Homo sapiens: one gene and its partner. The protein of the gene in region 2 purifies or fractionates together with the protein of the main gene of each other region. This does not show direct contact. Each region holds a gene or a part of one and is shown on either strand. Other genes may lie near its edges. The genes, in order: ACOT9 and NYAP1.

Region 1 (3,803 bases), on a different chromosome or scaffold from region 2:
AATAAAGTTAGAGAAGGGGGAAAAGATCCTACCAGTGAGAAATGGTAAGAGACGCCATCGTGAGCAGATTAGGGCCAAAATAACTATATCTTTTCCTTTCTACATATCATCACTGTATTTTCTCAGTAGTTTTTTTAATGTATGAACTTACAAAGTCAGAGAAACAACCTTCTAAAATGAAGATCAAATTCAGCTGGTATCAGTGTGGTATTCATTCAAAAACATAACATATTCCCACACACACCCAGACTGGTCCGAAATGTTTCATTTCAGTGGGGTGATATAAATTGCTTCTCAGAAGTTAAGGCTGCCTTACATGTAACTCACCCAAAGCTACAAGCAGTAGCCCACGCAAGTTCATATGCCTTCCTCATAAGGAAACCACCAAAGATCCGATTGAAAATGTTCCGCTCCTACAGGACATAAATAAATATCAATAAATACAAAACTTATGGCCACCTTTGTATACAGAACAGAGGAATTAACAATGCCACAGGACAAAGGCCAGTTTAAAGGTGTGTCAAATCTTGGACAAATATCATGAACGGAAGCTATCCTATTCGGATTTCTCACTAAATTATAATACCTGAGGGTGGCAAATTTCCAAACTCTTCAGTTTTGAATTCTCCATCCACACTGCATTAGAGGGTAAAACTCGACTCCGAAAACTTATAGTCCTGTACAAATGAATATTTATTAAACCCTGTTAATGCCATGGTTCTCTTGTTGAAAAGTAAAAACATTTGCAAGTCACTCCCAATACACTCAGACAACTGTGGCTCTGGAGAAGGCCAAGGTTTAGGCCAGGCGCGGTGGCTCACGCCTGTAATCCCAACACTTTGGGAGGCCGAGGCAGGCAGATCACATGAGGTCAGGAGCTTGAGACCAGCCTGGCCAACGTGGTGAAACCCCGTCTCTACTAAAAATACAAAATAATTAGCAGGCGTGGTGGCGGGCGCCTGTAATCCCAGCTACTTGGGAGGCTGAGACAGGAGAATTGCTTGAACCCGGGAGGCAGAGGTTGTAGTGAGCCAAGATCACGCCACTGCATTCCAGCCTGGGCAACAGGGTAAGACTCCATCTCAAAAACAAAAAAGGTCGGGTGTGGTGGCTCACGCCTGTAATCCCAGCACTTTGGGAGGTGGAGACAGGCAGATCACCTGAGGTCAGGAGTTCAAGACAAGCCTGACCAACATGGAGAAACCCCGTCTCTACTAAAAATACAAAATTAACCAGGCGTGGAGGTGCATGCCTATAATCCCAGCTACTCGGAGGCTGAGGCAGGAGAATCACTTGAACCCGGGAGGCAGAGGTTGCAGTGAGCCAAGATCGTGCCATTGCACTCCAGCCTGGGTAACAAGAGCGAAACTCCGTCTCAAAAAAAAAAAAAAAAAAAAAAGGCCAAGGTTTAAATGTTTTCCCAACGTGGAATCTCACCATCCTTACTTTGGATCCAGTGTGCTGAGAAACATCTCATGTATGGTGGTCCTCTCCTCAGCGCTGGGGGCCATTTTCAGTAACGACGTGGAGCTGAAGGCAATTCTTCTCCCCTTGTTCACTGGAACAAGGGAGAATAAGGAGCAATGATCAGGACGGTCGCACTACAGCACACGGTATTCTGACCTGGGATGCCTTTCAAAATCTCACTGAAAATTATACACGTATCCAAGAGAAAACTGCAGAGGCCACATAAAACTCCCAGTGAGTCTTTGGTTCCACATGGAAATTATATTGGTTCAGTGTGAGATCACTTGATATCATCCTGATCCAGAGCCCTGACCTGCAGTTATCCCATTGAGATGCATTTCTCACTTCATTAAAACGGAGAAAACAGGCCAGGTGCAGTGGCTCATGCCTGTAATCCCAACACTTTGGGAGGCGGAGGCAGGAGGATTGCTTGAGTCCAGGAGTTCAAGACCAGCCTGGGCAACATAGTGAGACCCCTGTCTCTACAAAGAAAAATTTTAATTAGCCAGGCATGGTGGCACGTGCCTATAGTCCTAGCTACTCAGGAGGCTGAGGTGGGTGGATAGCTTGGGCCCAGGAGATCGAGACTACAATATTGTTCATTGTAGCCTCAAACTCCTGGACCCAAGCCCAACTCCAGCCTGGGCAACAGAGCAAGAACTGTCTAAAAAAAAAAAACGGAGATAACAAATTACTTCACTTAATAAATATTGTCTGATCAATAAAATCATTCAAAGTATGGACTCCAAAGAAAAAAGAATAGCATATTTTTAATTTCAATAAATTATTGGTATGAATAAGACATTTGGGCCAGGCACAATGGCTCACGCCTGTAATCCCAGCACTTTGGGAGGCCAAGGCAGGCGGATCACGAGTTCAGGAGATCGAGACCATCCTGGCCAAAATGGTGAAACCCCATCTCTACTAAAAGTACAAAAATTAGCTGGGTGTGGTGGCGCGCACCTGTAGTCCCAGCTACTCAGGAGGCTGGGGCAGAAGAATCACTTGAACCCAGGAGGCAGAGGTTGCAGTGAGCCGAGATGGCACCACTGCACTCCAGCCTGGCAAGAGACAGAGAGACTCCATTTCAAAAAAAACAAACAAAAAAACAAACAAAAAAAAGACATTTGACTGGTATGAAGAGCCCATATAAAATCTTAAATAATCTCTTCTGCAGCGTAATTAATGTGCTTTTCAAATTTATTTTATTATAAACAAATTAATGTACATTCCCCTTGTCTAAAGAGCTCCTCTTCCTCTGGGCTTTCAGGGATGAGTGGATTTACAAATGCCGGCCTAAAAAGAAGAAAAAAAAGAATATAATTTAAGATATGCCATTATCTAATAAAACTTGAAGATGAACAATCACCTACTACTTTTAAAGAATCTGCTTTTCATTTTGGGTAGTGCTTACTGCTTGCCTTACATGTGAACGCTGGAACAATTAGGGAAGCCTTACAGTTACAGCCTTAATTGCACACTAGAAACTTAACATTATAAAAAGGATACTGGCATCTGCTAAATGTTTAACCTGATTCTAATCATGAGGAAACAGTCAAATATAGGTTGTAGAACACTCTACAAGAAAACTGGCTTTAGGCCGGGCGTGGTGGCTCACGCCTGTAATCCCAGCACTTTGAGAGGCCAAGCCGGGTGGGGATCACCTGAAGTTGGGAGTTTGAGACCAGCCTGACCAACAAGGAGAAACCTCGTTTCTACTAAAAATACAAAATTAGCCGGGCGTGGTGGCACATGCCTGTAATCCCAGCTACTCGGGAGGCTGAGGCAGGAGAATTGCTTGAACCCAGGAGGTGGAGGTTGCGGTGAGCCGAGATCGTGCCAGTGCACTCCAGCCTGGGCAACAAGAGCGAAACTCTGTCTCAAAAAAAGAAAAAAAAAAAAAAAAGAAAAAGAAAACTGGCTTGAACTCTTTAAAAATATCAATTTTTGAAAGACAGCAAATGGCAGAGAGACTATTCTAAAGAAACAGGATAACCAAATGCAATATACAATCCTTGATGGATTGGGTCCTGAATCAGGAAGATAGCTATAAAGGACATTTTAGGGACAACTGGTGAAATCTGAATACGGATCACATATTAAATAACTGTATCACTGTTGAATTTCTCAGATATAATAAAGGCATTGAGGTTATGGAGAAATACCTGGTTCTTAGGAAATACATGCTGAACTCCTGAATGGGTGAAGCAGTCTCAAACTTACTTTCCAATGATTCATGGGAAAAAATATGTAAATGTGTGTATTTGTAGAGAGAGGGTAAGAGAATTACGCAAATGTAATACAATTTACGTGAAAGGCATACGTTTGTTGCATTA
Region 2 (4,454 bases):
GGGCCATGGCGCTGCGGCAGGGGTGCGGGGTGTGCTCCTGGGAGGCGGGCATCGTCATGAAACCCATCCTGAGGGAGCGCCGCAGCGAGGCGATGTCCCGCACGCGGACCCCAGGCCCCTGGCCGGCCGCGGGCCCAGCCGAGCCAGCGGGGGCCACCTCCTTACTGGAGCTGGGGAGAGAAGGCCACGATGGAGTGGAGGAAGGGCCTCGGACCTGGGCATCCCCCTTCTCCACCCCAAGAGGTGTCAGCAACCCTGTGGCTTCCCAGGGAAGAGGACGGGAGCCTGGGTGGGGACAGGGTTGCCAGAAGGTCCAGGGCACCAATGAAGGGGCTTCAGGCAGAATCTTGGGCTTTAAAAACACAAGGCAGTTGGGGGCAGGGATGAGAAGAGGGGTGAGTATGCCTGCAGGGGAGCATCCCTGGGGCTGGCGGATCCCAGCCTGGGCACCTGTGTGGACAGCCTTGTGCAGAGGTAGAGATACAAACCCAGGTAACACAGATGGACACGCCTGCCCCCCACAGCTCCTTGGCCCCTCTCACTCTCACAGTGGCCCACACCTGGCCTCTGGTTACCCCTCCTGCCCAGCCACTGTGACCTCTGCCCCCACGGCACACCTCCTCTCCCAGATGCAGGATGTGCCCCTCCAGGACCAGAGCAGCCTCCCTCCCTGGCCCATCCTTCTTCCTCCCTCTCCCCTGGTGCTGTTCTCTCTCTGTCAGCCTCCCCGGCTCACCCCCATTCCATTCCACTGTCCCTGAGCTTCTGTCTGAGTGGAGGGTGGCAGAGGGTTGGGGGGGCGGCTGGCAGGGAAGAGAGGAGAGCTGTGTGGGGTGGGCACTCATTAAGGCCCTGTCTACTAGCCCTTCATTAGGGAGAGATCGCTGCAGCGATCACTCTGATTAATCTAATTAACAACAAGAATTAAACTCCACAGTTGCGAGGAAGGAAAAGGGAGGTGGCTGTGAGTCAGGCTCCAAGTGGCTGTGAAGTCAATGGGAGAGAAGAGGAGAAGGAGAGAAGGATGGGAGAGGCCAGGCCCCAGGTCCCTGGAAGGGCAAGCGGGGAGGCAGACAGGGATTGCAGGGGTCTGGAGGTCGTCCCCTGCCCTGGCTCTTTGGCAAGGCCCAGCCTGCATGTCTGCCCACCACACACACAACCCCATCACTTGACCACTCACCTCCCCCAGCAGGGAAAACTGGGAGGAGGCCAAGTGGATGTTCTCTGATGCCCCTGAAATGACCCCTTCCCTAGACCCTGGGAGAGAGGCGGGGCCTGCCCCTTCCAAGGTCAGGTGACAGGAGAGCCCGCAGCCAGCCCCAAATTTGCAGAAAGGAGAAGGGCTACAGGCCAGAGGTGAGTCAGGAAGGAGTGACTCGGGCCTCTGGGGATGGGGAACAACCAAAGGGGTGCTCCTAGGCTGTAAACCCCCCCACAGGAGAGCAGGAGTTGGGCCAGGACAGTGTGTGCAATCCTGGCCATTCCGTACTGACTCTGAGATCAGAGAGCTCACTCATGACAAGGCTGCCGGCCCCCGAGAAGGGCTGTGGCCCAGTGAGGGGGCAGGCAGAGGTGCGGAAGGGAAGGGAGCAGTCTGGGGTGCAGCCTTACCTCCTCTTGGCCTCCTCTTCCTTGTGCTGCCTCCACTCCAGCTTGGTTTTTCGGTAGAGGAGGTTCATCTCGTGGGGCAGGAGGTGGGGGCTGGGGGGCCCTGCTCAGTGCCACCAGGCCCGGGGGGCGGCCCTCCCTGGGTCCCGGATCCACTGGCGGGCGGGGTGGGTGAGAACGGAAAAAAAAGAAAGGTGGGATGGGTGGGGGCCAGGGATGAATGAAAGAGAGAAAACGGAGAAGAGACATGACTCGGGTCCTCAGAGAGGAAAACACAGACAGAAAACCCAACACAGCTTCGAGGACCCACAGACAGACAGACACAGACCCCGACAAAGGTGTTCAGAGCCCCAAATACACACTCTGGAGAGACCAGGTCAACACAGATTCCCTTCTTGTGTAAAGACATCCCGATCCACCACCCATACAGGCCCCACAAACGGACTGCAACCCCTCAGCTACACAAGTACACATTCAGACACACAAACCACGGAGCCACCGACCCACATCTACAGACAGAGGACCAGACGCAGAGATTGGCATAGGTAAACAGAAACCTAGGGATAGACAGGCACACAGACATAAACACCCACAGACACACCCACAGACCTCCAGACACACACAAATCTGCTACACAGAACTGGACACACCTACAGGCAGAGTTATGCCCAGGGCCTACTTGCGTACATTGCACCCCACTGGGAAAAGGGGAGATGGTCAGACTCTCCCCCCTATCTTGGGCTGTAGGGGGATCTCATGAGGGCAGGGTGGGGACGCTGAAGGAAGGATGGGAGACACCCTGAGTTGGGTATCTAAAATACCACCCATCCATCTATCTCCACTGCCTGCCTTCCCCCACTTCCAGTCCTTCCCCGGGCCTGGGCCTTGGTCCACCCCGATTCTGGCTCCCTGGCCCTTTAGCAATGGTTTAGTCTCTGCCTCCCTCCCTCGCTGATGGCCCCAATCACCTTCTTCTTCCTCCAGGATTTGGGAGGCCCCCTGGTTTTCCTCTTCCAGTCCCCGCCCCTCAATCCCACCCGGGGGGCTCCAGTCTGGCCCCACTGCTACCTTCTGGGCTGCGGCCTCCATACCTGCTCCGGTTTTCCTTCCCCCAAACCCACACTCTTCTTTTCGCCTTCAGCCTCACTTCTCCTCCCAGGCGCCCCTCCTTACAGCCGTCCTCCCCCTTCCCCTGTTCCAAACCTGGCCTGCTTCATCCCCCTTCTCCATCCAAGGGCCCCAGGTTCCTGGCACCCCTCCCCTTCCCCTTGTCCTGCTACCCTGGGCTTCTCCGCCTTTCGCTCCGCCAATCCTCCCTGTCCCTTGTCCCCCCACCCCAACCTTCCTGCACCAAGCCTCCCCAGGTTCTCCATCACCGTACCTGGCCTGCCGGGCGCCGGCCCCCCCATGCCGGGCTCCGCCCGGAGCAGGAGGAGGGAGGAGGAGAGACAGAGACAGACCGGGGGGAGCGAAGCTGGGCCCTGCCGCAGAGACAGCCCCGCCTCCGGGTCCGCCCCCAGACCCGCCCCCGGCCCCAAACCCACCCTTCCACACCCTCCAAGGACGGAACGGGAGCGGCCGTGCGGCGCGGGGCCGTGGGGCTGGGGCGCGGGGCGGGGGAGCCGCGGAGCCTGCGGGGGCAGATTCGGAGGAAGGTCGTGGGGCGCTGGGGGCCCGGCGCCAGCCCGTCGCGGTCTTTGGGCGTCCGCTCCTCGCCGCCCCTCGCCCCCTGCCCGGCCGGTCGGTGCTGAGTTCGGTCTCCCCGGCCCCGGCGGAGCGGCGTGCGGCGGCGCCCCCCAGCGGCAGCCTGGGGCCCACGCCCCCGCACCGTGTACCCCGTGCACCCCGTGCAACCCGTACGCCCGGCGCGCCCCGGGTCCGCACCCAGCGTCGGTCCGGGGCCGAGGCTGCGGCTGCGGGGCCCGGGGTGCAGTGAGGCGCTGGGGCCGCCAGGGGGTGCCGCTTTCCGGGCCGAGGGGCTCCGAGGGTGGGGAACGGGACGGGCGGCGGCTCAGCCCAGCAGGGGGCGTGCTCCGGCGGCCGCGCCCCCTTTCCCCACCGCCCCCAGGTGCCAGGAGAGCACCTGAGTTGGCTCGCGGGGGAATCGGCTGCCTCCCCCTGCAGCCTCCCGGGGGTGCCCGGATCTCGTTCCACCGTCTGGGCTCAAAGCTATCCGCCCCCGTGGCCCGAGTCCTCCTCTCGTGACCTTTGACTCCCCCGGCGCCGCTCGCAACGACCAGGGTCGACCTGAGTGTGGCCACCGCGGCTACCACCCTGGCACTGTCGGGGGGCCGCTACGGGACGTGACCTCGACCTCCCCTTTTCTCATTTATCTTTTCTTTTCTCATTATCTCCCCTAGAAATAACTCCCTCTGAAATCCCTTGGGCTCACAGCTCTGCAGCGGGGGTAAATCAGCTCGAGAAGACCTCGGTTGTACCTTCCACGGGCTGGAAAATGGGCACGGCAAAGATAGGCACGGCCTGATCCCTGGAGCCTGCGAATGCTACTTTCCATGGCAGCGTCTTTGCAGTCTTGCTGTGTGGCTTTAGGCAGATCGTGCAACCTCTCTGAGAGACGCTTTAGTCCGGGGATGTCCACTCTTTTAACTTCCCTGGGCCACATTGGAAGAAGAATTTGTCTTGGGCCACACATAAAATACTCTTAACACTGGCGGGGCGCGGTGGCTCACGCCTGTAAATCCCAGCACTTTGTGAGGCCGAGGCTGGTGGATCACCTGACATCAGAAGTTTGAGACCAGCCTGGCCAACGTGGCAAAACCCCGTGTCTACTAAAGATAGAAAAAATAAGCTGGGCATGGTGGCCTGCGCCTGTAATCCCAGCTACT

The links.
Region 1: the proteins of NYAP1 (region 2) and ACOT9 purify together in Homo sapiens (affinity purification with western blotting, with the first as the bait; one study listed by BioGRID). This does not show direct contact.

What each region holds. Positions count from the first base shown.
Region 1 is NC_000023.11:23,705,182-23,708,984, forward strand, and holds part of ACOT9 (acyl-coenzyme A thioesterase 9, mitochondrial isoform a precursor), read right to left. Parts: intron 2,764-3,803; coding exon 2,696-2,763; intron 1,559-2,695; coding exon 1,447-1,558; intron 678-1,446; coding exon 587-677; intron 414-586; coding exon 328-413; intron 1-327. UniProt on the Homo sapiens protein: Mitochondrial acyl-CoA thioesterase. Catalyzes the hydrolysis of acyl-CoAs into free fatty acids and coenzyme A (CoA), regulating their respective intracellular levels. Regulates both mitochondrial lipid and amino acid metabolism.
Region 2 is NC_000007.14:100,482,537-100,486,990, reverse strand, and holds the start of NYAP1 (neuronal tyrosine-phosphorylated phosphoinositide-3-kinase adapter 1), read right to left. Parts: upstream 3,065-4,454; 5' UTR 2,990-3,064; intron 1,764-2,989; 5' UTR 1,680-1,763; coding exon 1,612-1,679; intron 171-1,611; coding exon 1-170. UniProt on the Homo sapiens protein: Activates PI3K and concomitantly recruits the WAVE1 complex to the close vicinity of PI3K and regulates neuronal morphogenesis.